7 linked regions of the Homo sapiens genome follow. The protein of the gene in region 2 purifies or fractionates together with the protein of the main gene of each other region. This does not show direct contact. Each region holds a gene or a part of one and is shown on either strand. Other genes may lie near its edges.

The links.
Region 1: the proteins of MLF1 (region 2) and CEP295 purify together in Homo sapiens (affinity purification with mass spectrometry; 2 studies listed by BioGRID and IntAct, with this or other methods). This does not show direct contact.
Region 3: the proteins of MLF1 (region 2) and KIF11 purify together in Homo sapiens (affinity purification with mass spectrometry; 3 studies listed by BioGRID and IntAct, with this or other methods). This does not show direct contact.
Region 4: the proteins of MLF1 (region 2) and AKAP11 purify together in Homo sapiens (affinity purification with mass spectrometry; 3 studies listed by BioGRID and IntAct, with this or other methods). This does not show direct contact.
Region 5: the proteins of MLF1 (region 2) and CCDC88A purify together in Homo sapiens (affinity purification with mass spectrometry; 3 studies listed by BioGRID and IntAct, with this or other methods). This does not show direct contact.
Region 6: the proteins of MLF1 (region 2) and CDK5RAP2 purify together in Homo sapiens (affinity purification with mass spectrometry; 3 studies listed by BioGRID and IntAct, with this or other methods). This does not show direct contact.
Region 7: the proteins of MLF1 (region 2) and ERCC6L purify together in Homo sapiens (affinity purification with mass spectrometry; 3 studies listed by BioGRID and IntAct, with this or other methods). This does not show direct contact.

Annotation. Positions count from the first base shown.
Region 1 is NC_000011.10:93,664,261-93,668,682, forward strand, and holds part of CEP295 (centrosomal protein of 295 kDa), read left to right. Parts: intron 1-2,421; 5' UTR 2,422-2,447; coding exon 2,448-2,555; intron 2,556-3,346; coding exon 3,347-3,547; intron 3,548-4,422. UniProt on the Homo sapiens protein: Centriole-enriched microtubule-binding protein involved in centriole biogenesis.
Region 2 is NC_000003.12:158,577,017-158,581,438, forward strand, and holds part of MLF1 (myeloid leukemia factor 1), read left to right. Parts: intron 1-4,422. UniProt on the Homo sapiens protein: Involved in lineage commitment of primary hemopoietic progenitors by restricting erythroid formation and enhancing myeloid formation.
Region 3 is NC_000010.11:92,633,907-92,638,328, forward strand, and holds part of KIF11 (kinesin-like protein KIF11), read left to right. Parts: intron 1-3,277; coding exon 3,278-3,403; intron 3,404-3,480; coding exon 3,481-3,639; intron 3,640-4,422. UniProt on the Homo sapiens protein: Motor protein required for establishing a bipolar spindle and thus contributing to chromosome congression during mitosis. Required in non-mitotic cells for transport of secretory proteins from the Golgi complex to the cell surface.
Region 4 is NC_000013.11:42,277,947-42,282,368, reverse strand, and holds part of AKAP11 (A-kinase anchor protein 11), read right to left. Parts: intron 1-4,422. UniProt on the Homo sapiens protein: Binds to type II regulatory subunits of protein kinase A and anchors/targets them.
Region 5 is NC_000002.12:55,290,574-55,294,995, reverse strand, and holds part of CCDC88A (girdin), read left to right. Parts: intron 1-3,220; coding exon 3,221-3,285; 3' UTR 3,286-3,320; intron 3,321-3,831; 3' UTR 3,832-4,422. UniProt on the Homo sapiens protein: Bifunctional modulator of guanine nucleotide-binding proteins (G proteins). Acts as a non-receptor guanine nucleotide exchange factor which binds to and activates guanine nucleotide-binding protein G(i) alpha subunits.
Region 6 is NC_000009.12:120,391,189-120,395,506, forward strand, and holds part of CDK5RAP2 (CDK5 regulatory subunit-associated protein 2), read right to left. Parts: intron 3,451-4,318; coding exon 3,324-3,450; intron 1-3,323. UniProt on the Homo sapiens protein: Potential regulator of CDK5 activity via its interaction with CDK5R1. Negative regulator of centriole disengagement (licensing) which maintains centriole engagement and cohesion. Involved in regulation of mitotic spindle orientation.
Region 7 is NC_000023.11:72,211,023-72,215,444, reverse strand, and holds part of ERCC6L (DNA excision repair protein ERCC-6-like), read left to right. Parts: intron 1-4,422. UniProt on the Homo sapiens protein: DNA helicase that acts as a tension sensor that associates with catenated DNA which is stretched under tension until it is resolved during anaphase. Functions as ATP-dependent DNA translocase. Can promote Holliday junction branch migration (in vitro).

The sequences.
Region 1 (4,422 bases), on a different chromosome or scaffold from region 2:
AAAAAACAACAGCTTAAATAAAATTTTCGCCACTCCACATATTTTTGTGTGTTGGAAAGTTAGGAGCCATTTGGAATAAGGAAACCAGATTCTTCCCTTGGCTCCGCCACTAGATGTTGTCACTCAGGGAAAGTCCTTTAACCCAAGAGGCCTTGTTTCTTCATGTATAGCATGAAAAATATAATCAGTACTTTAGTTACCATTACCAAAGCCGTGTGAATATTAGATGAGTAGGATGCATTAAAAGATTTTTTTAATGCCAGCAGTTAGTCCTTTTTGGTGTTAGAGTCTTATTGAAGGTTGTGATGATTGTGTATAGCTCTGTAGCACTTCACATAAATTAACTCATTGAGTCATTCATTCAGTCAACACACTTACTGAAGTAACTACCTATGGGCGAGACACTGTTTTCAGGCTATGGACATAAAATGGTGAATAAGTCCATTCTGCCCTGATGAGCTTACATTCTGATGGAGAAGTCACTGGAAAGGTATTAGTCCCTGTTAGGTAATCCCACAGTCTCCTAGCCCCTATTCTGTTTACACCTGGTTGAAAACATTGTGCATCCATAGTATGTGAAATATTACCTGGTAGTTATTTATTAAATTTAATTGAATATTAAAATTTTTATTAAAAAACCCATAGCCATTGTCCTTCAATTGTTAGGAATCTAACTAGAAAGAGCAAACTGTAATTGATGAAAAACTACAGGAGGTAATACCAAGACAACATAAAATTAGTCCCCATCTGAATGTATAGGTAATAATGTATTAGAGTTGGGCAAATCAGGAGTGGGAAATTGCAACAGGAATTATCAGAGGACAGCTTCGTAGAGGAAGGAGGGCTTAAGCCAGCTTTAGAAAGATGTAAATATTCAGTAACTGAGATTGTCTGCCTGGTCATTGTGAGGGAGACCTGAGAAATGTTGATTGTCTCAGATAAAATGCTCATGTACTCATGTAAAGTGTCTAATTTTTTGGAAATGGCAGTAATAGGAGCCAGTTAATATCAGAATTACCTGAGGAGGGTATTCAAATTATAGAACTATAGATTCTTATATTTATTCCATTTCTTTTTGCCTCGTTCCCCCAAATAGGAGCATGTTATAATCTAGGGAGGAGAGAGAGAACACAGTGTGAACGGTAGCAACAGAAGAATAGATCTGGGCCGGGCGTGGTGGCTCACACCTTTAATCCCAGCAACTGGGGAGGCTGAGGCAGGTGGATCACTTGAGGTCAGGAGTTCGAGGCCAGTCTGGCCAACATGGTGAACCCCTGTCTCTACTAAAAATGCAAAAATTAGCTGGGTGTGATGGCGCATGCCTGTAATCCCAGCTACTCAGGAGGCTGAGGCAGGAGAATCACTTGAACTCAGGAGACGGAGGTTGTGGTAAGCCAAGATTGTGTCATTGCACTCCAACCTGGGCGACAGAACGAGACTCCATCTCAAAAAAAAGAAGAATAGATCTGGAAAACTAAACGCTTGATACAGCCGAGCAAGTCATTCATATAAAAATTACGTCACTATAATTATTGAAGAATTGTTTACTGTAGATTATAGAACATGGGATTGATGTGATTTCATGAGGTAACAATGACACTTGGTGATCAAGTTATATGCAGTAGACTGGGAGTTGAATCTAGGAACAAAGAACCCTTGAAATTACAGCAACCTTGCTAGTTATGAACAAGTTATGAAGGTTCTAAAGTGTCAGATTATAGTTTTGAAAACATTTATTCTATGCTAACATCTTTTTAGGTCTTTGTGCTTTTTCACATTTAAGCTCAGTAAACTCTGGAAATGCTAACCAGGAATAAGTCAGGTCCAGATACTCGAGGTAGACAATCTGCTATAAACAGGAGAAAACTTTTCTGAGTAATTCTGATTCAGTCTTCATTTCCACTTTCCCACCCTTCTGAGTATCACTGATCTAAGTGTGAATTTATAATTGCTATTTGTAAATAAGTTGGACTTCGTTTACTCAAATTTTCCTTGCATGTATATAACCCTTTAAATATCAAAAGTATTAACACGAATTTTAAAAATTTTCTGAGCAGGCATGGTGGCTCATGCCTGTAATCCCAGCACTTTGGAAAGCTGAGGTAGGTGGATCACTTGAGGCCAAGAGTTCGAGACCAGCCTGGCCAACATGGTGAAACCCCATCTCTACTAAAAATACATAAGTTAGCTGGGCGTGGTGGCATGCACCTGTAATCCCAGCTACCCTGGAGGCTGAGGCATGAGAATCGCTTGAACACGGGAAGCAGAGGTTACAGTAAGCTGAGATCGCACCACTGCCCTCCAGCCTGGGTGACAGAGCAAGACTCTGTCTCAAAAAAAAACAAACAAAATTATTCTAATCTTTGCTGCCCTATTTTAATGTTACATTATTTTTATAGACATTTTCCTTTTTGAATTCAGAACTGTCATACATAAAGTACACAGAAATGAAGAGAAAAGTCGTGAATACTCACAAGCTGAGATTGAGTCCTAATGAGGAAGCCTTCATTTTGAAGGAAGATTATGAAAGAAGGCGAAAACTAAGATTGCTACAGGTATGACTTATTTGTAATAAAGTTTTAAATTCCTTTCTTCCTCAAATTACTTGTATTCTTTTACATTAGAGTGTTCTAAATGTTGTATTTAAAAACCTCTTCTGGGTATACGAGAGCCCTGGTTATTTGGTATTAACTAGTTTTGGAACACTTGAAAAATAGGCTGAGATGGTTAAGTACATTGTAGAAGAGTTGGAAGATAGGTATTATTTGACTCGAATATTGAAAATAGCTCTTTATCTTTTTTAAAAATGGTCTGTAATTGGTAACAGGAAGCTTAGATGACTTTGAAGAATGCTAATTGGAAAGATTATTAGCTGCTGAAACAAATTTATCAGGAAATTGCAGATAACCCTTTTCTAGAAGTGTTTTTAAAGTAAGTTTTTGTGAAGTATGTTTCAGGCACCATTCTGTCTAGAATCAGAAATGATGTACAACAGAAATGGAGTTCTCATCTGGCTCTGTCTGTACTCTGGGCTATAGATTTTGTTGAATCATATTTATCGCTTTAGCTTTTATAGGTTATTAGAGTGATAATGGCAGTCCTTTTGGGAGTGGGCGCTGAATAAAAGCTATCAGTTTGGAGACATTAGATATAGTCTTGAGATTTTTACTTTTTGTACATTCACTCAGATTTTCTGCTTTAAATAGTCTTTATCTAATACAAGATGAGTATCAAAGAGAGTTGACAGACTTAAGAGAATTCATTTGAGTTCCTCTTTCCAAATAGCTTTTCAAAAAAGTTTAAGTAAACCTCCTTTCATATAACCTGTTAAATATGCATTCTTTAGGTTCGAGAACAAGAAAGAGATATCGCCTTACAGATAAGAGAAGACATAAAACAGAGGAGAAATCAACAATTTACACGTTTGGCAGAGGAGCTAAGGGCAGAATGGGAAGAATCACAAACTCAGAAAATACAGAACTTGGAAAAACTGTATTTGGCAAGTTTAAGAAGTATGGGAGAGGGACATCGACAGGCCAAAGAAAATGTGAGTGAGATCTTATTTGACTACCCTGTTGTGGCAGTAATATTAGTAAAAAGTAAATTATAGTTGTTGAATGCTTTTCTGATAACATTTTCATGCATTGAATTTCTTTGGGGCAGCTTGAACTTTTTTATAAATTTAATGTAATTTGTGAATAATAGGCTCATTTCTTACTAAGAGTTATTTCAAGTAAAATCCATGTCAAATAAAATTGGTCTTCCTATGATGTTCAAGTTAGCATTATTCTCTTCCAGTACTCCTCTATCTGGGGAAATAATAATCTTCTGAATCAGAAGTTGTTGTCCATCTCAGGCATTTTTTGACAGATTTGGTGGGGTGAATTCAACCCCCCAACAAACATTTTTTGATGACTTTCAGAAAGTCACAGTAAGTCTGCCCCATTATTTTGATTTATTGTGATTTATGATGTGGAAATACTACAGTCCCAGAATCAGTCACATACAGTAAACAAGCTAGTTACAAAGAAGGTAAATCTTTGATAACAACTAGTGAGAAAGAAAATATCTTAAGACTGTGGCAATCTGTTTCATGGTCCTTGGTTTTAGTCTGTGTTTTTAGTAATAGCCGTAAGTTCTGACTCAGGTTTTTGTGGTTTTATGCATGCCACATTAAGTTTGTGCCTAATGCAATGTTTCCCAAACCTCTGTTATTTGAATACCATGTTCACAATTTTTGCCCTGACTGGGAAACTACCCATATCACTATATATTTTACGTACTTTAACCATGTCCTAAGTAGTTCGATATCCTATTTATATTTTTGTAATAATGTTAATTGATTGCATTAACTTTACATTAAAATGTTTGTGTTTGTCCCCCCTAATATGGCATATCATCAGTGGTACTGTTGTCATGCTC
Region 2 (4,422 bases):
TCTCAGCTCTCCATATGAGCATCATATATCTGATGACCAGTATTTGGTTAAAGTACTGCATATATTCACAGGATGTTACTTCTTCTATCTCCTTATATGTATAATCTCTATTTTAAAAATTTTTACAAATTTGTATTTATTTTATACTTGGAAGTAGTTGGATTTATTAAAGGACATTGCTTTGTCCTATCCACTGATGGAGTTCAAAGTGAATGTATTCTATGTACAAGATGTGGGTTAACTTTTTTATTGATGGAAAACATTCTCATTGAAGGAAATAAAACCACCTTGTTAAGCTTTTGGAAACAGTATTCAAGGTTACTACTTAAATACTTGTTTAGACGTACAGTCTGAGGTAGAGTCTCTGCCAAATTGTCATAGCTTGGCTCTAGTTAATATTCTGCCACATATACCTCTCATTCTAAACAGTTGATAAAAGTAGCTTGAGAATACTCAGCTAAAATTTAAGTTACTTATTTTCAAGGTCCCACTTTATTCTAAGACCCTGAATACCTACTGTGAAATTACCTAGTATAATTGTTCTTAGGAATATTTTAATATATAAATTTCTTATAAATGAACTTTGCAAATTATAAGATCATATTTGAAAGAATGAGACACTGTAAGCCTTGTGCTGAAAGGATTTCTAAGGTATACTATTCATTTGGGGCATTCTTTGGTTCATGAGGTAAACACCACTGAATTAGGAGCCCAGGAACACAGCATGACTAGGACATGGTTGCTGGGTCAAAAATGCCATACAGTAGCATGTACCCACAAGATAATTCCTACTTCTGCCAATTAATATTGTAAATATCCATGAAAAAGGAGTGAACTATTTATAGAATATCAGGGGAGCATAATCATTTCCACAATTTTTTTGATATCAAAGGCTTTTGCCACACCAACACTTTGTACTTCAAGACAATGGAAAAATAGAATTGCTTAATAAAAATGTAATTCATTCTTTAAATATTTCTTCAGTTTCTACTATAGGCCGAACCCTGTGGGTTCTCTTTTAAATTTTTAGATGTCTTGGTTCCTGCCCTCAAGATCCTTCTTTGAATGTTACATGCATTATTTCTAGTATCAAAACATGGATCTTCTGGTCTATTTTCCTTATAGACCAGTCTACCTCATTGAAACTAGGGAACATTTCTTTATGATCAAGAGAACCATAACCATCTGCTGGCTAAGCTTTTGCCACTACCATGTATAATGGAAGGGAGGAATTTCCCTTAATGAGTGAGCCTGCCATGTCAGTTATCTGAGAACCTTATGTAATAGGTAATGCTCTTTGCTTAGAAGCACAAGTATCTATATTCTTATATAGATGAAAAAGAAGTGTAACTTAGGCAAAATAAGTGTGTGTGTGTGTGTGTGTGTACATATGTATTTGAGAGAGTTTTAAAAACAATAAATTATTCTAAAGGGAGACATTACCAGCCCTTAAACACATGTATGTACGTATGTACATACATACATACAAACACACACACACACACACACACACGTACACACTATGTTGAAATCATTCCCAAGTGACCTGGAATCAATCTAAGAGTTAAGACATAAACACTTTTGAAGGGGAAGTAGGCAACAATTTATTTTTCCTGCCTTGTGATATATGCTGAAGGTAAATAATATAGAATAGAAAAAGTACGTTTGAGACCAAAGTTTATTCAGTTTGGTTGTGGTTTGTGTGAGCAATTCTAAGAGAGGAGGTATATAGTCATCAGTGAGTAAAAGTACATTTTTCTTGACCTAAATGAAAATACATCCTCATGGAAAATCTGAAAAGTATAGAAAGTTTGGTAGCAGAAATAATACAACCCATTATTTTGATGTATTTTGTTTCAGATGTCCACATGTGGATTTTTATTTTCCAAAATTCGGACCACACTTTATGGTTAATTATTCAATGCTTTTCTGCAACATATACCATGAACGTTTTCCTGGTCTTTAGATATTCACTAAAGCATGACTTTAGAGTCTGCAAAATATTGCACCCTATGAACATACAAAGCATATTTCTCACATAAATCTTTAACAACATTTTCAAATTATTACCTTAGACTCTTTGTGTACATGAAATGACTAGTTTGTATAGCATGACCTTTTTAAAACCTCCTATTTCCAATTTGTTTTCCTAGAAGAATGAAATTTTATTTTCAAAAGAGAACATTATGAATGGGCTAAAATTTTTCATTTGAGAAAAAAAGCCTAGGTTAATTTTAAAAATATTAAAACAACTGTGTGCTACCATAGAATTTTTTTAGTTTTGATAAAAGTGAATTCAAACTTGGACAAGAGAAACATTAAAGCCTTATCTCCAAGCAGCTGCCTTTCTGGGTAGACATGAATTAAACTCACTAGAAGTTTCAGCCAGATTTCTTCCTGAATGGTTCAGACAGTTGCAAACACCAGACTATAGGCTCGCTTTTGTTTAGTGCATCTTCCAACAGGCAGTCATTTGTTCATGTCACTCAGAAAGATAAAATTTTTAGCATTTGCTGAACATACACATATTCAAATAAACATTTAAATATTCCCCTACTTCTATATAAAGAAAGAAAAACCCAGGCAAATTTTAAATGAGCCATATTTTGTTGATTAATTTTTAGCCCAATTATAATGCAATGAGAAAAATTAATTTTACTAAATTTTGATTCTGTAGAAAAGTAATAGCTGTTTAGCACTCCCTTATTCAAAGAACAAATTTAGTATTTCTTGAAATACTTTTCTTCATTGTAGTCAAATCACATCTACATATCTAAAGGAAAAGTTGACTGGTTTTCCTAAGTAAGTATATATTAATAGGAACAAGCATTTTAGTCTCCATACTTTAACCATACTCTAAGCTGTAAATGTCCAGTGAGTTTGGAGCTGTAAGCAAAAGGACCTCCTTTTGAAATGCCTGTTTTAAAACATCAAATGGTATGAAATCCTTTAACCTCATGCAGTTACATTTATTATGAAATATTTCAAACATACTGCAAAGGTATAACGAATACTTTGGAATAATCTGGTTTTTGAGGTAGGAGTTAGAAAATGTTCCATGGGTAACTCATTTGTGCATTTTAGAACTACTTGAAACTCTGTACCTTCAAATAAAAAGTAGAGTGGGGTGGAAGTAGGGAGAGCATTAGGAAAAATGGCTAATGCATACTGGACTTAATACCTAGGTGATGGGTTGATACGTGTAGCAAACCACCATGGCACATGTTCACCTATGTAACAAACCTGCACATCCTGCACATGTACCCCGGAACTTAAAAAAAAAAAAGAAAGATTTTGTGAGGTGGAAAAAAAAAGTAGAGTGATACGTATGCCAAATTTTGAATTACTAATTTTAAAGTAATTTTGTTCTTCATAATCTGATTTTGGAAAACAAAAAACGACTCCCTTTCTGCCTTCTAGTGTGCTAAAACATGAGCTGCTCCGTGTGTACTATTGATCTGTACACACTGAGATTTTAAATTAAAATTAATTTATAAATTGTCACAACTTCTTTATAGTGCTTGTTGCATATAATTTTGCTAGAATAGTGATTCTCAAACTTTTAACAGGTAGGAAATCTAGGAATGGTAGTCTTAAATTTCCTTTGCCCCTCAAGACAAAAACTCATACTAAAAATCCTACAAGAATCTGGTATGTGGCTGGGCATGGTTGCTCACACCTGTAATCCCAGCACTTTGGGATGCTGAAACGGGCAGAGCCCAGGAGCTCGAGACCAGCCTGAGCAACATGGCAAAATCCTGTCTCTACCAGAAAAAAAAAAAAAAAAATTATCCAGGCATGGTAGTGCACGCCTATAGTCCCAGCTAAGGAGGCTGAGGTGGGAGGATCAATTGAGCTTAGGAGGTCAAAGCTGCAGTGAGCCATGAACATGCCACATTGCACTCCAGCTGACAGAATGAAACTCTGTCTCAAAATAATAATATGCCATGTAAGAAGCTTAAGGTTACCACTTCACGCTAATAACAAATTAAAAACTGAACAACCTGAGAAAACAACTTTTCTTGTATATAGCAGAGAATCGAGGTCACAGGGCAAATCTCTGCCCCCATAATTGGAGATAGGCAGATAGAGAGAATCACAACTTAACTGGTGCAGAAACCTCTTCAGGAACCAGTGCGAGGGTAGTAGGAAAACCTGACCTGTAGTTGACAAATTACTGGAGACTCAGAGTGGACAAGTGTCAGAGTTAAGAACTCCATGGTCCCCCATAATTTTGTGAGTTTTACCTCCAGGAGCTCTACCAGGTTCTCCCAGTGAATATTGGAAAAAATCTTCTCATGCTTCCAGCAGAAGAGAGGGGTGGAAAGTAACCATTAAATATGCCAGAGCATTCTGTTTTTCTTAGCAAGGCCTGCAGTCAAGAGAAACTTTTTTACCAAAGCCCAGTCTGCCTGGGGGAAG
Region 3 (4,422 bases), on a different chromosome or scaffold from region 2:
CTTTCTTCCTGAGCTTTACTAGACACAGTCATAGACACGTCACTGTGAGAGACTACATATATATATATTTTGTTTTGTTTTGTTTTGTTTGTTTGTTTTGAGATGGAGTCTCGCTCTGTCGTCCAGGAGTGCAGTGGCGTGATCTCGGCTCACTGCAAGCTCTACCTCCCGGGTTCATGCCATTCTCCTGCCTTAGCCTCCCGAGTAGCTGGGACTACAGGCGCCCACCACCACACCCGGCTAATTTTTTGTATTTTTAGTAGAGATGGGGTTTCACCGTGTTAGCCAGGATGGTCTTGATCTCCTGACCTTGTGATCCACCCGCCTCGGCCTCCCAAAGTGCTGGGATTACAGGCATGAGCCACCGTGCCCAGCCAGCCTCTCCTTTTCTTTATTTGTATTTATTTATTTTTTTCAGCCTCTCCTTTTCTCGGCTCACTGCAACCTCTGCCTCCTGGGTTCAAGCAGTTCTCTTGCCTCAGCCTCCCGGGTAGATGGAATTATAGGCATGTGCCACCACGCCTGGCTAATTTTCGTATTTTTTTTTAGTAGAGATGGTGTTTTACCATGTTGGTCAGGCTGGTCTCAAGCTCCTAACCTCAAGCAATCCACCCACCTCGGCCTCCCAAAGCGCTGGGATTACAGGCGTGAGCCACCGTGCCCGGCCGAGAGTACGTTTATATTTTTAAAGACAGATCTCTCCACTGTTTATTCTCTCCCAGAAAGATTATTTTCAAATGTATGGAACTAACTTTTGAAACCTTTTTCACTCATGTCTTGTAACATTAGGAGTAGCAGTTATTAGTGAGGCTTCTAATGACTAAAGGGCAAGTTTAGCACCACATGATATCAAGGGACTTGTTAGTTGGCCCAGAAATTGGCAAGTCACTCTTTCCCCAGGGGTCCTGGACCCAACCAGAAGGGGATATTGGGTAGCTGATTTTAAAACTACAGTAATATATGATAGTAATAATGGTGCAAGAAAAATATCTTAGAATTCTGGGGACACATATCACTTCTTAGGGTTAGATCTGTGTGGCCCCTTCTGGGCCATAACTATAAATCTTTTCTCCAGAGTTCTATGGAAGTCACTCATCTAATTGCACTTAATATTACCTCCTTCATACTTGATTTATATATAGTCTTTATTTTATAATTGTATGGTTGGTCTAGGAAGTTCTTAGCCATATAATTTATTTGTTTTCTTTGTGCAGAGTCTTTGCCTCCCTTTTTCAGCTTAACAATATTTATTAAACATTTTCCAAGTAAATACTACAAATGTTAGCTGACCCTCTGCCTCAATTCAGTGCTTAGATGACATTATTTGATAGGTTTTCTCAATCACCCAAATTTGACAAAATTAAAAGATATCCTGTCAGTACTAACTTTTCAAATATTGATTCATTCATTAAATGGTGGTCTGTATATATATAGGCATACTTCAGAGATATTGCAGGTTTGCTTCCAGACCACTGCAATAAAGTGAATATTACAATAAAGCAAGTCATGAATTTTTTGCTTTCCCGGTGCATATAAAGGTTATGTTGACCAGGCGCAGTGGCTCACACCTGTAATTCCAGCACACGCCTGGTGGGACAATCAGAACACAACGTTTATCAGTTACATTTGCTGTCTTATAGGGGTACAGTTTATGGTACCCCAAGACAATTACAATAGTAACATCAAAGATCATTGATCACAGTGTATAATGAAAAAGTTAGAAATACTGTAGTAGTTACCAACATGTGATGCAGAGACAGAAAGTGAGCACATGATATTTGAAAAAAGTCACTGATAGACGTGCTCAAGGTAGGGTTGCCACAAACCTTCAATTTGTAAAAATTTGGTATCTGTGACACATAGTAAGGTGAAGCACAATAAAATAAGCTATGCCTGAATTGATACATTTCTACTTACCAAGTTACAATTTTTGCTTGAATTAAAAGAAAAGAGGCATGTTGCTCTCACAAAATTAGTTGAAATTGGTATGCTAGCTCTTCTTTCCAAAAGAATGTCAGTAGACCTATAAGTATTTACTAATGTATTTCTGTTATACTTCCTCAGCCCTATCCTACCAAAAGGAGATTAGATCAGGATTTTTTTTCTTTTTATAAATATTTCCAATCTATACTACATTCTTAATTTCCCTATTTCTTGACAAGAACAACATCTTTCACAAGTTCTTCTGATACAATAGGATGTAAGTCATCTCAGATCTTCAAAGTTAAGTACTTCCAGCCCAAGGGCTAATCTTGATGACTACTTGGTCTCAGCCTTTTTGACTGGTAACCTAAACTTGTTTGAAATTTATTTTCTTAAAATATACCTGTAGGTTTTTAAAAATTTATTTTGTTTGGAGTGCTGAAATCTTATTAACTGTCATTTTCCTCTTTTGAATTCTTCTGACTTCTATTTCATTAAACTATTAAATAGTTCTGGCTGGGTGCGGTGGCTCATCTCAGCACTTTGGGAGGCCAAGGTGGGTGGATCACTTGAGGTCAGGAGTTCGAGACCAGCCTGGCCAACATGGTGAAACCCTGTCTTTACTGAAATACAAACATTAGCTAGGCGTGGTAGCAGGTGCCTGTAATCCCAGCTACTTGGGAGGCTGAGGCAGGTGAATCGCTTGAACCCAGGAGGCGGAGGTTGCAGTGAGCCAAGATCACGCCATTGCACTCCAGCCTGGGCCACGAGAGTGAAACTATATCTCAAAAAAAGAAAAAAAGAAATTCTGTGTTTTCACTGGGCTTGAAAAAAGAGAAATTATTATATTTATTGTAATATAATAAATTATTGTATTATTGTATTGATTTATCTATGTAGAGTATAAAAAATGGAGAATGGGGCCGGGCGCGGTGGCTCACGCCTGTAATCTCAGCACTTTGGGAGGCCACGGGGGGCGGATCACCTGAGGTCAGGAGTTCCAGACCAGCCTGGCCAACATGGCGAAACCCCATCTCTACTAAAAATACAAAAATTAGCTGGGTGTGGTGGCTCACACCTATAATCCCAGCTACTCCGGAGGCTGAGGCAGGAGAATCACTTGAACCCAGGAGGCAGAGGTTGCAGTGAGCCAAGATGTTGCCACTGTACTCCAACCTGGGTGACAGAATGAGACTCCGTCTCAAAAAAAAAAAAAAAAAAAAAGAATGGAGAATGGAAATGTAAATTTTAATGTGAATGTTTAGCTACCAAAGTATTTAAGATATCATTTAGAAAGGTTTACAGAAGTGGAAATATTCTTTTTAAAGACCTATTTGTTTATTTCTGAAACCAGAATGTACTCAAGACTGATCTTCTAAGTTCACTGGAAATGATTTTATCCCCAACTGTGGTGTCTATACTGAAAATCAATAGTCAACTAAAGCATATTTTCAAGACTTCATTGACAGTGGCCGATAAGGTAACAAATGCTATGTTCTTAATATCTCAAAATTGATGTGTTGTTTAAGAAGGAAACTCATTTTTGTTTCTTCAAAGATAGAAGATCAAAAAAAGGAACTAGATGGCTTTCTCAGTATACTGTGTAACAATCTACATGAACTACAAGAAAATACCATTTGTTCCTTGGTTGAGTCACAAAAGCAATGTGGAAACCTAACTGAAGACCTGAAGACAATAAAGCAGACCCATTCCCAGGTATGTTGTTTAGCGGACTTGGGGAGTACAGAAAGAGAGTTTTAGGATGATTTGATATGACTTGATAATTAATCTATGTTACACAATCTGAATACTGTAAAAGCTGAAACCTGAAAATACCATAGCCACTGTTGCTTATAACAGTAATTATTGTAGAACAATTGAGAATACTTCTCTTAATATTTGAAGTTTTGCTACATCTAGAACCCCATGCAGAACCACAATATGACAAAACAGTCCTTTTCTCACATCAAGATGAAAGATGAATCTGGAAAAACATACCTTTAGAGAAGAATGGTTATAACATTTAAAGTGAAAATGTATCTACATTAAAACCTGCTAAGTTGTTTCTAGGATGGCATGGATAGTTGTCTTTCATAAACCAAGTCCTACTTTCTCTTATTTCTGTCTCACTGATAGACATTTAAAACATAGTAAATCGATACAACTTTTAATTCTTATTGATTATAAATGTAATTCATGATTTATCTTCCCTGTAAACTGTTCCTCATTATATGAGGCTTTAAACCAAAACCAAGCCTTCAAACCATAATCTGTAAATATCAGATATCTGAAAAACAGCTTCTGGTATTCTTAAGACTTTAATAATGACTGTCTAAAGTTTTATTAAATGAGCTTATTATAATATGACAGAACTCTTATAATAGTTAACATTTATTGAGCAATTCACTGTGTTTATTCCTCCCATCAATATAGATATAAATTCTATTACTAGTCAGATTTTTAATGAGGAAACTGAGACCCTGTGAGCATCTAATAGTA
Region 4 (4,422 bases), on a different chromosome or scaffold from region 2:
TGGAAATAATGAGTTAGAGTGATCCATACTGGCGTGAAAGAGCAAGTTGCAGAATGGTGTTAATAGGATGCTCTCACTTGTAATTTAAAAAAAAAAAAAAAAAAAAAAGACTGGCCTAGCACAGTGGCTCCCAGCACTTTGGGAGGCCAAGGCAGGAAGATCACTTGAGGCCAGGAGTTCAAGAACAGCCTGGGCAACATGGCAAAACCCAGACTCTACTAAAAATACAAAAATTAGCTGGGTGTGGTGGTATATGCCTGTAATCCCGGCCACTCGGGAGGCTGAGGCACAAGAATTGCTTGAACCCAAGAGACGGAGGTTGCAGTGAGCCAAGATTGTACCACTGCACTCCAACCTGGGCCACAGAGTCTCAAAAAAAAAAAAAAAAGAAAGAAAAAATTATATACAGACACAACTCTGACACACATATGTAAATATTTGTGCATCCACAGGAAATGACTTGAAGGAGGTACACTAAACTGATGCCAGTGGTCACCCATGCAAGTGGGACTTTTAAATTTTATAAAATGTCATCTATCTACAATATGAGAAGATGGTAGATCATTAAGTAAAATAAGACAGGTTCTGGCATATTAGCATTATCCCATTTTGTGAAAAATCTGTATAACTACATGTGTGTATCTATATATGTAATATAAAAGAAGACATACACTAGATGAGTACAGACATTGGTTTCATCTGGGTAGATACAATCATGGGTGTTTCATTTTGTGTCTATGTATGTTGAGTTTTGTACTTTTCTGAATGAACATAAATTCTTTTATAATTAAAAAATATATATTCTCCAAGTCTTTCCTTATCTCCTCTGACCTAAGAAATGTTCAAGTTGACATCACCTATTACTTGACCTTTTTTGTATCAGGAGAATTAACTATGCCAGTCTGTGAAGCGCCTGTCAACAATATTGCCATATCTTGACTCTCTTCCTACTGCACTAGTTCTCAAACCTCAGTACCTGTACACATCAGCTTATTTCTAACACACACAACTCCCCCACCAGAAGATCCAAATTCAACAGGTCTACATGGAACATAGGAATCTGTACTTTTAACAACTGCCACATGTAATTTCTGGTTGAGAAAAACTTGTCTCTCTGTATGTAAGTTTCCTTTCCTAAATTATTTCATAACTTGTTACTCAAATACTAATATTTCTTAGTCTTCATCCTTATCCTCTTGTCTCATTTTATTTAGTTTTTCAAGGACATTTTATCCTTACCTCTGGTTTTAACTATGCAAATAACTCCCTAATTTATTCTTCAGTTCTGTATATCTAATTTCCTATTAGACACTTCCAACTAAATATCCCAGTTACTCCAAAATTTGTATGTTCAAAAGGTAAATAAAACTTTCTCCCTAAACGATCTCCTCCTGTATTCTCTATCTCAGTAAGAGCCATTAAACCAAACCCAACCAGTAGGCCAAGCTGGAAACTGGTCTTCCCCTCAATTCCTACAGACTACCTCGCCTAGTAAATTGCCAAATCCTGACTTGTCATTCTCCTAAACTTCTCTCAAATCTACCCTCTCTCTTCCACCAGCTGAACTGCTACTTACTATTCACGCACCAGTTCAAAAACTTCCCTCCCTAAAATAGGCTTGGCTCATATCTCTCCTTTATCCCTCCTTGCCCAAATAGTAACCACCTCCTTTGTGCTCTCTAAGTGGTTTATAATTTAATCCTCTGGTGCCACTGTTTGCATACTTCCCTCCTGTTGTAAGTTCCATGAGGACAAAAGTGTTTTATGTATTTTTACATAGTAGGCATTCAAACATCTGCTGAACTAATAAATAAAAAGTAACATATTTAAAGAACAAAGTTCAAAGCATGATGTAGGCTGAAAAATATAAAACAGAATAAAGAGCAAAGTATGCCTTCAAATATTTAAATGAGTATGTCTACATTTAATGAGTTTGTGAAAATACATTTGTGTTTCCAATAATTTCTACTTTATAGTATCTGAGATCACATTTAGAGTAAACACTCCAAATACACATTTTGACCAAATGCCAAATGGCCAAGTGTTAAAAATTAATATTCTGTTGAATATAACTACAAGAAAACAGGACAGAATATATATGAAACATTGGTTTTAAACATCAGACAACAGGGAACACGGGATTGTGATCCCTGAGAGAAGGGAAACACTGGCTGCCAGCTACTTCCAGGTCACAATACAGGGACAGGAAAGCCAAGCAGTCTGGTGGTTTCACTGAGTTTTAAACACAGATCAGTTTGGAGAGACCAAGATGGCTAGAATTTACAGGGTATTAAGCTGGAGGGAGAGCTGAAAGTAAGTGAGAGCCCTAGAGATAAACCATAATATATTCCACCAGAATAGAAAAACCTTGTAATGTATCAGGTAATGATAGACTCCTCAGAAGAAGTAGCAGCCTTAGTAGAAGCAGCCTTAGTAGAGACAATAATTCAGCACTACGTTAAAAACTGTTCTGGACCCACACTAATAAATTCTAAAAGCAAGCCCTGAAACAACCCAACAGATTCCAAGTAACTGTGCACCCCAACTAAATCCAACACACTTCAGTAATATAATAAATCAAGCAAGCAACAGTATAAACTCAATGGCTGGCATACAATAAAAATTACCAAGCATGCAAAGGAAGAGAAAAATATGAACCATAACCAAGAGAAAAAAAGGCAATAAATGAAGACCTAGAAATGACAGTGATGATGGCAGGAACAGAAAAGGATTGTAAAACTATAGTACAAATATGTTCCATATACTCAAGAAGTGAGAGGAAAACATCACCATAAGGAGAGAAGGAGAAGATACAAAAGACACCAAAATTGAACTTTTAGAGATGAAAATTAAATATACTGAAACGAAAACCATACTGGATACAATTAACAGATTAAACTAGAGAAGAAAAGCTCAGTGAACTTGTAGACAATGTAATAGAAGCTATCCAAAATGAAACATGGAGAGACAAAACTTAAAAACAAACGTAGAGTGTAAGTGACTTTTTAAGCACCATAAAAGGTGAATAACTGGAGTTCCACGAAGAGACATAGTGAGTAAGCGAGTGAGTGAGTGAGAGAGAGAGAGTGTGTGTGTGTGTGTGTGGGTGTGCACGTGCGTGCACTGGGGAAGTGGGTGCAGAAGAAAAAAAAATTTGAAGACAAAATAGCAGAGAACTTCCCAAATTTGATGAAAACCGTAAACTGACAGTACCAAGGAAGCTCAGCAAACCCTAAGAATAAACATAAAGAAAGCCAAGGCAAATCATAACCAAATGGCTGAAAACCAGTGATAAAGAAAAAATATTAATTGACCAGAAAAAAAGTACACATTATATACAGAGGAACCAAGGACAACAGACTTCACATCTATATGAACCGGAAAACAAGACAATGGAGCACTATCTTCAAAGTACTAAGAAGAAGAAAAAAAAAAAAGCATCAACCCAGATATACTCAATGAAAATGTATTTCAAAAATTAAGGCAAAATAAATTTATTCACATGAATAAGGGCCGTGAAAATTCACCACCAGTTGACCACCACTAGAGTAACTATGGAAAGAAATTCTTCAGGCAAAGTAAAACAATACCAGATGGAAATCTGAATCTTACACGAAGGAATAAAGAACATCTGAAATGGTAAATATGAGGGTAACAGAAGTTATTCTTCATTTTTCAATCCCTTTTAAACAGTTAAAATATAACTGTTTAAAAATAGTAACAATTAATTAGAGGGTTTAAGACAGACATATTGATAAAATGTATGACAAAATAGGATAAAAAATGTGGCAGGGGAGATGGAGACAAAAAAAGACTGTCATAGATTTCTACATTAAACATGAAGTGATGTTATTTGAAGAAAACCTGTAATAAGTTATCTTGTAAACCCTAACACAAACACTAGAAAAATAAAACAGAATAATACCTAATAGGTGAACAGCAGAATAAAAGTGATGTTATCCCCCTTTTTGCAAATAAGGAAGCTAAGTTCCTTTCTTGGGTACAGACCTGTTATTTGACTTACAAAATCTAAAACTACTACAGCTATCAGATACTATTTTGTTTTTCAAAACAACAGTCAATCGTATAAAATGATTTTAGTATGTCTTAATATCTATTAAGATATTTGCTTCTTTATAGTTTCTGCCTTTTTCCTTTTTAATCCTCAACCTCATTCCTGCATTCACAATATATATGTTCTTACCGCTACAGAGTTTCTCAATCTCAGCATTACTAACATTTTGGGTCAGATAAGTCTTTGTTGTAGGAGGCTGTGTATGCATGGTAGGACACTTAGCAGCTTCCTTGGCCTCTACCCACTAGATGCCAGTAGCACTCAGTTGCAGTAACCAAAACTGTCTCCAAATATTACCAAACATTTCCTTGGGGAGCAAAATCACCACTTACCCTATTTTAGCACTT
Region 5 (4,422 bases), on a different chromosome or scaffold from region 2:
GTTGCTGTTAACAAAATATCATTTGGCTAGGTTTTTATTTTTTATTTAAAATTGTTGCACAGTGTTCAGCTGTACATGATGGCATGTATATTAATGTGAATGTGTAACCACACCAAAACCTGCATGAAATATTAATTACTTTGTCCATTTTCTGCATGCCTTTAAAAACCTTAACCATACATGCTCCTCCTTCACATTTTTTGTTGCCTGATAAGATTGTTACTTTGATATCCAGAAGCATGTTAAAACAGTTGCATGCTCTCTTACCAAGAAGACATTTCCAAGTCATATTTGCTTTGTTGCTTCTGGAAAAAAATGTTCATTTCCTCCCTCCCTTCCTCCTCTTCCCACCCCTCACTTGCTCTGACTGTCACTCCTTTTTTTCTTCCAGAATGTGTACTTTATATTACATATGTACAGTATCAGTAGGGAAAATGTAAAAAGATGTTGTTTTCTTTTGTCATTTAATTAGGCCATCTGTCCTGTTTTAAAGAAATAGTTAATAATTCAACACTTTATATAACAAATATTAACTAATACCCATATTTATAAAACATTTTTCAGATTTAAAAGATTGTTAATACTTATAAACTTAGTGTTATTCTTAGAAAACCCCATCAAATTTAAATGTGATTTACACAGTGACTAGGAACATTTGTATTTATTGTTTCTTCTCTGCACTTTTCATCATCTGATAAATACAAGAGCTCAAGTAACTGTCTTTTCTTCAAGATGGCTTCTATACTTGAAATCAGTTAATACAATAGTTTTTCCAGTTCTTTTTTTATAGAGAGTCAAAGAGAAATAAACCAAATTATATTCATTGTGTTGGAAATTTGTATTTTTACTTCTAATCAAAAAGGGTAGCAAGTTTACAAAGTGGTAAAAATTGTTACTTCTATAATTAATCTATTATTAAATTATACATGTATATCCTTAAAACAGAATTTTTTTTAAATGAATAATCACACTAAAATGTAAAATTAGAACTTGTAACCATTTAAACAAGTATGTTTCTAGTAGAACAAATTTTAGAACTAAGAATAAATACACTCTTTAGCTTAAAAAAAAAAAAAAAAGTAAGAAAATATTTGTTAACTTTGACTCCAGTGCAAAGAACTTTTATTTTTGTGTTCACAGCACTTTTAAAGCAAATTAGCTAAATTTGAATCTCTAACTCCCAGATTGCTAAAAACAAAAAAACCCATAACCCTGATCCATTTACTTCCAGAGAAATACACATTGGCATTCTCTCTGGAATGTTTTTTGCCATTTGGATTTAGCCTATAGCTGATAAGGACTCAGCCTGGCACCTGGAAGGAATGCCTTCAAATGTGACCATGTGGGGATGAAATTATGTTATACTTGTTGTTGTTGTTGTTGTATTAAGTGGTTATTAACTGGACCAAAGAAAAAATCTGTAGAGAATATTTCCTAATGAAATTTGTCTCCTTTGTAATCACACTTTTTTTCCGATAGCTATTACAAAAAAAAAAAAAAATGGTTCTGGTACAGGTAATCAAATGAACACAATCAGAGGATTGTCATATTTTAGTACCACCTAATATACTTTTTGCATCCTTCTATTTTATTGTCAGTTACTTCCCAGTCAGTCCTGACATTTCAAATATATTTGGTGCTAATATTTTCCCTTTTGTTTTTTCATAGGCCAGTAACAAAACTTAATAGTAAACATAGCTGAGATTAAATGGGGGCAGTATATGACACAAATGTTATAATTAGTGTTATTTCTTTTCCACACTGAGTCAAAGATTATTTCACAGCTATTTCAACTTTTTAGATATCATAATTCTGACCATAACACTTCAAAATATTGTATTTATTCATTCAAAATTCATTGAAAAATCACATGCTATTATATTAAAATTATGTGATTATTTTACAAAATTAGACTTACAGAAAAGAACTATTTCCTACCCAAAAAGCTATATGTTTATATGCAGCATGTTTCCAAAAAAAAAAAAAATACACTGTGCATATAAGAGAAATATGTATCATGTCCATGTGTCCTGAGGACTGTTGGAAAATACAGTCTGGACTTCAGAAATCATCACCTGCTGTGGAGTCATAAAATTCCCCCCAAAACACCACTAGTTCTTTTTGTTTGTTTGTTTGAGATGGAATCTCACTCTGTAGCCTAGGCTGGAGTACAGTGGCGTGATATCATCTCACTGAAACCTCTGCCTCCTGGATTCAGGCAATTCTCCTGCCTCAGCCTCCCAAGCAGCTGGGATTACAGGAGCATGCCACCACGCCCAGCAAATTTTTGTATTTTTAGTAGAGACGGTGTTTCACCATGTTGGCCAAGCTAGTCTCCAACTCCTGACCAGCTTCCCAAAGTGCTGGGATTACAGGCGTGAGCCACTGCGACTGGCCACAACACTAGTTCTTATCAACGTTTTTTCATAGCATTTGGAATCAAATTTTTAGTGGTGAAAATACCTTAGAAATCATATGGAACCGATGTGTCCCAAACATTTAAGAAAAAAAACAATACTTTCTGTAAGTGAAATCTTACATAGATGCCCCAAATTTTAAAAAATGAATTTCATTTAAAGTAAAAGTGAAACAACTCTGACTCAATTGAGCAATTGCACTTATTTCCTCTAAGACACCTCCAGTTTTCAAAAGGATTATTTGTAAAACTATTCGAAGATTCAGTACCCTAATTTTATAAATGATGAAGCTGGATAGCTTTCAGTATTCCTGGCCTAGCTTTCTAGAAATTATAAACATATTCTTATGCACTGCATCCCCTTTGACCAAAGCAATTTTAGCTTTAACCAATGTAAGGAGGAACATTATTTGCCTATAAAATATGCATCAAGCCCTGGTTTTCTTAGTAAATAATACAAATACTTCATTCCAGATGGTTTTGCTACTACATGCAAGATTATGTTTAAGACTGTAGGTGACCATTTAGTAAATAAACATAGTAAGGCTATCTGGCACTAAGAGGGGGGGAAATGTAATTGTTATAGTTTTTTTAAAAATTATAGCTTTCCTAGGAATATTACTTATAGCTTTAAAATATAAAAATCGATCTTTAAGTATTGAGATGCCTATGAGATTAATAATTTTCCCAGACAGTTACAGATTCCTTCTCCTTGCCCTACTCAGTGAGAGTGTATTTCTTATCTTCTGAATTGTATTTTGTTTCATCTTTGACTAAATAACATGAAATGCTTTTCTCCTGCAGATGTGGACAAAGTACAAGAAAGCAGAAATTCAAAAAGCAGGTCTAGGGAGCAACAAAGCTCCTAATTCTATTACCCACTACATGACATGTGGGCCAAGTGGTGAGTTTCCTGCTTAAAATGTAAATGAGATTAGTCTCATTTATACAAACTAACCAAATTAAGTGTGAAACAAGTGCACATTGCATTAACAGATGTAAATATTGCTTGCTTAATTCATTGACTTTCTGTTCTACTTACTAGTGAAGCAAGATTAGTTGGCTGCCATAGGTTTTTACCTGTCAGCGCAAGGAACAAGTATTTTTTTTTAAGTTTTTTTGTCACTTTAAATTTAATTTTACTAGTGAATTATGTTCTAGGAATTACTTTTTTAGTTTGAAGCCTTTTGTGGTAGGAATACAACTTCCCCACAGTTTTCTTGAAAATTAATGACTAAATGCCTATTCTATGATGAGCCACTCAAAAATTATCTCTGATTGTCTGTCATTCTCATTCTTATAGAAATACCTGGTGCATGCTGTTCTTATAGTGGCTGCTCTGTATTTTGTGTCTCTCTTATCTTTAAGCTTTTCTTATATTTTCTTTCTTCTTTCTACCTTCCAACTAAATACAGAGAGAAAAGTGTCCTTCAGTTTCTCAGTATGAAGCCTTTATTTCTGAAGTAACAAGACACCTAGCAACTATAGGAATCATTTTTAAAAATCTTTAAGGAGACTTTTAACAGTCCTTCGTGAATAGAGCAGGCAAGAAATACAAACCTTCATTCCTTGAATCAAGGAGCACTACTGGATTCAACTGCCAAAATTTTTTAAAGGTTTTAGGACTTACTATACCTTGTACTGTTAAGATCTACTGAATAAAGGACGTTCTCTCACTAAGGACCAGGTGTTTTAAGGTTAAGTGTTTAAAGAAGTACTCCAAGAACAATCTGCTTTTTTCATCATTTGTTTTATGAATTTATCCATGTTTGCTTAATGCTTCTGCTAAGTGTTAGCCAAAATCTAGCCATTTATATTTAGTTGTGTAAACCTAAATTAAATGCTGTAGTATTTTGTGGAATGTACTATATAGCAAGATACAGAGAAAATTGTTTTGGCATGTCAGAGCCTTATTTGGTTAGCAGACTGCATGTGTTGATACTTTTTTTTTCTTAAAGCCAATTATTTTGATGCAAAAGAAATTCAGTTTATAAGATAAATCTGAA
Region 6 (4,318 bases), on a different chromosome or scaffold from region 2:
GGAGGTTGAAGATGATTGTGAAAGAGCACTCCATGTCCCTAGAGAACAAAGCTCATGGCAGAAGAACTAAGGATCACTTGGCTCAAGCTTTGAGGGGACCCCTACACCTCAACAGCACTGCCACGTTCCAAAGCACAGAAATCCCCACTGCAAGGAGAAGACCGAGGAACACAGCGACAAAGGACTCGTCCCAAATCTAGACTGGCCCCAGCACAGAGCTGGGACTCACATGTGGGCCTGCCCAACTCAGTCCATGGTTCTTCCCACCTCAGCAGAGTGCTGGGAAGAAGGTACCGACCTGAGCTGAGCAGTGTTGACCTGGTGACAGGTGGTTTCCAACGGTGGCCTCACTGAATACTCCCCCACCCTATGGGGCAGAACTACTGTCCTCGCTTTGCAAATGAGGACCTGAGGCAGCTGGTTCCAGGTCACATGGCCAGTGAGTGGCCCCAGGGCATCAGGACTCTTAGGGTCCCACTGGGATGCCTTTTCCTTACTTTCCCCTGTAGACTCTGAGAAGGTATGGTGTCAGTTTGACCAGGTAGCAATCAGCCCTGGCCTTTGCTCTTCCCCATCACCATGAGGGGACGGAGGAAGAGGAGGTGCTATGCCAACTTTCTCCTAGTCCCTTTAGACCCAGAGCAGGTCTGTGAAGTCCGCAGGGCTTGGAGAATTTCCAAGGACCTGACTCCTTGGGATGAGCTGCAGAGCCTGGCAAAGGAGGAGTTGCAGGCCCGGGTCAGCCACCAGCTATGCTGCCTGGAGCAAGCCCCTCACCCTGCTCTGGCGGAGCCTGCTCTGTGCCAGGCCTAGGAGATATGGAGATGGACAATACCAGCTCAGGAGGGGAAGTGCTATGAGACATTTGCGGCTCTTCTTACTATGAATGATTTGCCACCTCCATGCATAGGATTTGGTCTGGCCTAATGGAAAGAAAGAGGAGGGACTGGTTGAGCATCTCCTCTGCCCCCGAGACTGTGCTAAGTACAATACAGTTTAGGTAGCGTTATCATCCTTATTTTACAGATGAGAAAACTGGGGTGCTTTTTATAAAGTTGCTATTGAACCCGGGACCAACTAGTTAGTCTGAGTCCTTTGGAACTCACGTCTCCAGTTAGAGATGAGGAATCGAAAGCTTAGGGTTCTAGTCTAATGCAGGTCACATAGGAGAATGGAGATCTGAACTGTGCTCAATCAATAATTCCATGTTCTCTGACCTAGGACACAGGGGATCTGGGTTCTAGTTCTGTCCTTTTGACCGACCACAGTACTCAACCCATCGAAACCTACTTCTGCAATTTTCTCACCTGTCAATAGGGTTAGCTACCTGCCCTGTGACTGTTCAGGGCCAAAGGCTGCTGAGGAGGAGAGATGCCAATGCAGAGAGTTCTGCCTTTCTCTAGACCTATGCAGAGCATTGCTCCCCACCCCACTGCTGCTCCAAGAGTCTAACCTAAATATTCCACAGCTGCCTTAACAGGACCACAGCTGGCACTGTCTCTCTCCAGGTTCCCCTCAGTGCTCTTTTTCTCTACGAGTGACACGAAACCCTCAACCAGAACCCCACAGACATCCACCACTCTGCCAGGTTGACCTCCTTACAATCTTTCAAAACCATCCCTTCTCCCCCACAGTCCTGACCCACTGCCCACCTGGGGGACTGCTGCAGCCCCCAAAGAGGTCTTCCCGGCCTCCTGGCCCCTCCAAGCTCAGCCATGGGATCTTGTAATACACGCATGGACCCCGCCGGTCCCTGCTGCTCGTCCTGGAGTCCTGTCCACAAGGCTCCTTGCAACCTGGTTCCTGCTTCTCCCTCTCACTCATCTCTCAGAGGAAAACCCTTTGCACGTCCTAAGCATGTCCCTGAGCACTCAGTTCTCTCTCACCCCTGGGAGCACACCAGCAAGTCCACAGGGCCATCTGCCAGAATCCTATTCCTGCCCCTTCGCTGACAAATTCCTAGTCATTCTTCAAGACCCAGTCAGTCTTGAACCACCTCTCAGGCCTCCTAGGATGCACTCAGCACATCGTCCTGCAGCTAAGCTCTGTGTCTCCCCTATTAAGCCCACGACCCTCACTGGCAAAGACTGTCTCGTTCATCTCTGTCCCCAGGACCTGGCGTAAGGGGCAAAGAACAGGAACTCAGTGCCTGCTCAGTGGCTGCGCTCCTCTCTTTTGCAGTCCAAACACTGGCAGTCTCACAGAGTCTATTTTCAGAAGGTTCCCAGGGGTGGCTAAGGAGAACTCCTACTTGGCAATAATCTCTGTCCTGTGCTTCTCAGAAATGCCCCAGAAATGTTGGACTTTGACAGGAGAGCCGCACAAGGCAGGCTGGCACCTCCAGAGAAAAAGTGCTGCAGTCAGCAGTTCTCTTAAGACAGGGAAACTGACACACAGACAGCGCAGGCTTGGCCAGGGCCATGTTGCCAACAGGCACTAATGGAAACTCAGCTACCGCCTGCTCCTCTAAATGCAGCGGGAGGGAGTGCTGAGGGTTTAAACCAGGAGACAGAGCTGCTCCCAAACAATCTCCAAAGTGGCTAGATCAGAACTGGGACTGACCTTACAAAAGTTACTTAACCTCACCAACCCTGAGTCTCGGCATCTGCCTTGAGAAGTATTTCTCAAATCCATGCCCTCCTCTGGATCCCCAGCGTCCTAGCCACCTTTCCTGTCTGACTAGTGAGTCAGCCTCCCCCTCACTGGTGGAGCAGCCACCAGCGAGCCATTCTTGCACACAGATGTGACAGGCCAATCCTCTGCCCTGAGCCTGCCACCTACAGTCTTTCATGAAGTACTCCCTGACCCCCAATCCCTCCCACCTTAATTCACTGTTTGCAGCCTTTACCCCACAGGGACTGGTTTTGGTTTCTCACATACAAAAACTTATTTCCTGCCTTTGTGCCTCTGTCCATGCTCTTCCCTGAGGGACTGCCACTCCCCGCTCCATGTGACGACGTCTGCTTTCATTTCACACTCAGCGAGGTGGTCACTTTGTCTAAGACGCCCACCTTGCCGGGACAGAGTGACGGCCACCCAACTCCCACCCCAGTGCTCTGCATGTTCCCATCACTGCACATGCCACACGACTGTCTCCCAGTGAGACGACAGTCCCTGACACCAAAAGGCCGCTCTACAAAGGTGTGTTAAGTGAATACATTTGTCTATGTGAGTCAGAAAGGATGGAGTATGAAAAGAAGCCCACAGATAGGAGGCATGATTACAAACCATCTGGGCTCCAAAGTGGGTAATCCAGGGCAGAACTGGGAGCCCTCGGAGGCAGGAAGTGGTCAGGCATAGCGGCCACCCCCACACTCACTCACATTGATCAAAGATGACTTTTTCCTGGCGCTTGCTCAGCTGCAAAAGCTTCATGGTGTTTTGCAACTTCTTTTCTTGTTCAAACAATTTTTTATGTAGTTTGGTGACCTCTGCCTTCATTTCTCCAATCTAAAGAGAAGAGAAATTAGAAAAATGAACAAAGAACATAAACATCATGTTACACAGGAAGAATTACAAAGCCATATAAAAAGATGATGCTCAACCTCACTAGCAAAAATATTTGAATGGAAACTAGAAGCCTTTTCCTGACAACCAGGAAAAGGCAAAATTGGACAAAACTCATTGAGGGTAAGGGGAAAGCACCTCGTGACCTCTGGTGGAAGTGCGGGATGGCATGGCCCAGTGAGAACGCCCTGGCAAGATCTACCAAACTGAGATGCGCTTAACTCTTTGCCCCAGCAATTCTACACGCTGGCATTTCCCCCAAGGAATAATAACATAAGCACAAGAAGATGCCTATGTACAAGGATGTTCGTCTCAGCATTGTTCATGGTAGGAAAAAATAACCTGATTTCAGTATAGATCTGGATAAATTATGGTACTTACATATAATACAATAATTTAGCAACTATTAAAAATGACGTTGTAGAGCTCTATGCATTGATATCAAAAAATGATCACAGTTAGTGACAAAAGAGCCCAGAACAACACGTCCTGTATAAAAGGCATTCCTGTTCCACAAAACTGAATATAAACGCCCACATCCATAGATGTGTATATTGAGATGTCATCAAAATGTTAACAGCAATTCTCTCCATGAGCTATGATTTCAAATTGCGTGATCTTTTTCTTTTACAAAAACTATAATGCTGATTTTAAAAACTTTTCAATGTTTAAATCTTCAAAAGATCATATAAAAGTATTACTAGGAAAGTATGCTCCATTAGAAGAAACTCTTCTGGTTTTCCAGAGTAAACTCTGGATGGGTGGCAAAACCAGAGTCCCCAGTGCTCTGAGGTGACATACATGCACGGCG
Region 7 (4,422 bases), on a different chromosome or scaffold from region 2:
ACACTTCAGCATATAAACTATTAAGTGGATTTCAATATTTGTTTAGTTTTTTTCTTTTAAAGTAAAATTTTCATACAAAGAAATGCACAAATCTTAAGTGTACATTTGGTGAATTTTGACAAGTGCATACACGTGTGTAACCCAAACCCCTATCAGGATATAGAATACTATTATCACCCCAGAAAGTGCCCTCACGCCCTTTCCCAGGCATTTTCCACCTCCAGAGGCAACCACTGTCTTGATGTTTTCCACCATATGTTAGTTTTGCCTATTTTAGAACTTGATATAAGTGAAATCACACTGTTGCTACTCTTTTATGCCTGGCTTTTCCTCAGCATGTTTTTGAGATTCATACATGTATAAATTCATACATGTAGTAGTTTGTTCTTTTCTATTATTGAGTCCTTTGTATGAATATATCACAGATTGGTGGGTTTTTTTGTTTGTTTGTTTGTTTTGAGTCAGAGTCTTGCTTTTTCATCCAGGCTGGAGTGCAGTGGCTTGATCTTGGCTCACTGCAACCTCCATCTCCTGAGTTCAAGCGATTTTCCTGCCTCAGCCTCCTAAGTAGCTAGGATTACAGGAACCCGTCACCACACCTGGCTAATTTTTGTATTTTTAGTAGAGATGGTGTTCCACCATGATGGCAGGGCTAATCTCGAACTCCTGACCTCAAGTGATCTGCCCACCTCGGCCTCCCAAAGTGCTAGGATTACAGGTGTGAGCCACCGTGCCTGGCCTAAACTTTTGTTTTGTTTTTTTTTTTTTTTTTGAGATGGAGTCTCACTCTGTCATCCAGGCTGGAGTGCTGTGGCATGATCTCGGCTCACTGCAACTTCCGCCTCCCTGGTTCACATGATTCTCCTGCCTTTGCCTCCAGAGTAGATGGGATTACAGGTGCCTGCCACCATGCCTGGCTAATTTTTGTATTTTTAGTAGAGATGGGTTTCACCATGTTGGCCAGGCTGGTCTCAAACTCCTGACTTCAGGTGATCCAACCGCCTCGGCCTCCCAAAGTGCTGGGGTTGTTTCCAGTTTTTGGCTATTAAGAGTAAAGCAACATTGTTTGTTTTTTTGACTCTTAAATGCCTGTCTTATAAATGGCGCTAAGCAGGGAAAAGCTAATTATTAAATATTGTTTGACTGAAATGTGAACCACATTTTTCCCTAATTTATGTCAGAAATCACTATTTAATAATATTGTTTGTGTTTATATGTGATTTTAAAATGATCCCCACCTTAATTAAAATGACCATCCCTGAAAGTGAAGCCAAAAGGAAGGAATCCTCCTAGCCTACTCTGCCATGACTTGGGCTTTAAATGGACCTGTTTTCAATACTGGCATTCAGGTCACCTGCAATTTTTATGTTATCCAAATGTTTTATGTTTTATTGATTTTGATGGAGAATCAAAAGACATCTGTTGTGTCTAATGCATCTACATGCATCTTGACAAGGGGACTGGACATAGAGACATGTCAGGGAGCAGATACTCCAGGAGCTGGATCAGTATAGGGAAACTGTTAACGGACAGGTCTTTGTTCTCAGAGCTCCCAAGATAGTGGTGGGCCGCTCCCAAGATGGCAGCAAGCCTTTTGTTCTCTGACCTGGGGTTCTTGGCCTCACGGATTCCAAGGAATGGAACCTTGGGCCACATGGTGAGTGTTATAGCTCTATTAGAAGCCGTGGGTCATGGAAGAGAACCGTGGAACCCAGCAACTAGTGTTCAGCTGGATTAGGACGAACCCGGGCACTTAGCCATGCAGGAACAATGGCGAGCCTTTAGCCCGATTGGGAGCGGCAATGGGCGCCTTGCTATATCAGAAACGCAGCGGACACCCTGCCATATCTGGAGGGGTGGAAGTCAGCGATGGGTCTGCAACGGTGGCAAACAGCAGTGGTGGACGGTGAGCGAAAGCTCAGCTCGAGCCGTAACAAACACAGACCAGAAGAGTGTGCAGTTGCAAGATTTAATAGAGTGAAAACAGAGCTCCCATACAATGGGAGGGACCCAGACGAGGTTGCCCCTCCCGGCTCGAATGCCTGGATTTATATCCCGATCATTTTCCCTCCCCCTGTGCTCTCGGGCGATATATGATTTGACTATTTCTTTACCTCCTGCTTTTAGCCTAATTTGTATTTCAGTGAGCCCTCTTTACTACCTGATTGGTTGGGTGTGAGCTGAGTTATAAGCCCTGTATTTAAAGGTAGGTGTAGTCACCTTCCCCAGCTAGGCTTAGGAATTCTTAGTCAGCCTAGGAAATCCAGCAAGTCCTGTCTCTCAAAACTGGGTTCTTGTTGAGAGGACAGCAATAACCCCACTCACATGCGCCGAGATTAGCAGGTCTAGGCTCCTCCACCCCTATATGGGCCTAGTGGCTGGTGGCCAGATTACAAAACAAAGAGCATTTCTGATTGTTTTGCATGTGAAGAAAACAAAGTTTTATTGAGTTAGGGTCTTTGCATTCAGTTCTCTGTCTCTTCACATTCTTTTTTTTTTGAGACAGGGTCTGGCTCTGTAGCCCAGGCTGGAGTGCAGTGGTGACACGATCATAGCTCAATGCAACCCCTGCCTCCCAGGCTCAAGCCATCCCTCCCACCTTAGCCTCCCAGTAGCTGGGTCTAGGCGCATGCCACCAAACCCGGCTAATTTTTTTTCTATTTTTTGTAGAGACCAGGGCTTCACTATGTTGCCCAGGCTAGTCTCAAACTCCTGGGCTCAAGCAATCTGCCCGCCTTGGCCTCCCAAAGTACTGGGATTAGAGGCTCAAGCCACCGCTCCCAGCTGTCTCTTCACATTCTAAAATAACTTTGTAGGGAATGTTCTAAAGGGCCCTCCATAGCAAGGAAAATCAAGTGTGTGTCTTCTGCAACTTAAGCTTGTGTGCCTTTTCAGCTGCTCATTTGTAAACACTGTGTGTTTAACTTAGCTTAGCTCTTTGGGGCATAGGTCTAATAGTATGGCTTATGGGTTTCTCCAGATAGAAAAACTTTTCAGCATCTGAACTGGCAGACCCTCTGTGGAGAAGAAAGGTTTCTCAAGGTATCAGCCAGTTCCAAAGGGAGGTGGATTAGATGTTGAGAGGTTAATTGGCTATGGTCAAGGAAAATGTTTGCATCTGAGGAAATAGCTTTGGGGCAGAGATGATTTTATTATTATTATTATTATTTTTTTTGAGATGGGGTCTCGCTGTGGTGCACGGTTGGAGTGTAGTGGTGCGATCTTGGCTCACTGCAACCCCCGCCTTTCACGTGATTCTCATGCCTCAGCCTCCCGAGTAGCTGGGATTACAGGCACCCACCACCATGCCCGGCTAATTTTTTTGTATTTTTAGTAGAGACGGGGTTTCACCATGTTGGCCAGGCTGGTCCTGAACTCCTGACTTCAGGTGATTCAACCGCCTCAGCCTCCCAAAGTGCTGGGATTACAGGCATGAGCCACCATGCCCAGCCACAGAGATGATTTTATATGGCCACTTGGGCAGGGCTTCTTATAGAGAGACCTTTAGGTGGGGTTATGACCCAGGGGGTTAGCAACTGGGCAGTTTTGCCAGCGAAAGTGTAGCTTTCCAGGTAACAGGACTTTGTAGCCCAAGTTTAATTGTTGTATCACCTTCCTCCAGGAGTTGTTTGTATATAATATTTCTTTTTTTTTTTATTTTTGAAACGGGTCTTGCTCTGTCACCCAGGCTGTAGTGCAGTGGTGCGATCATGGCTCACTGCAGCCTAGACCTCCCATGCTGAAGCGAACTTCTTGCCTCAGCCTCCTGAATAGCTGGGACTGACTACAGGTGTGTGCCACTGATATGGTTTGGCTGTGACCCCACCCATAATCTCATCTTGAATTGTAATCCAGATTGTAATCCTCAATCTCATCTTGAATTGTAATCCAGACTGTAATCCTCACGTGTTTGGGGAGACACCTTGTGGGAGGTGATTAGATGTCCTTTAAAATAATCCTTAAAGAGAAACATGCTCTAGTCATATAATTTCAGGTAAAACCATTTAAACATAAAATTTTTGTTTTTATTGTCCATTCCTATGGAATTAAAAACTGACATTTCACCCCATACTCTAGCACTATTCTTCTCCTTGTTCTCTTGCTTGAGGGTTATGGTTCTTTGTCCTGAACTGGTTACTCCTCCCTGTCCTCTTGGCTCCCAAGCAGGCCTGGCTTCTCCCTGCCTATGTTCAAGGAAAATAGGGGAGCAATTCTGGAAAAATACTTGAGCCCATGAAGTGTTAGCTAAGTTATCCAGATCATTAGGGATCCTGTGTGCTATAGATGGATAAATCATTACATTAGCAATAAAAAGGACATGTTTTCCCTCCAAGCCCTGAAAAATGGAAGTGATTAGAAGTTAAGTGGCTAAATCAAACTGCATTGTAAAAAGCATTCTAGTCTTGCAAATAATCAGATATC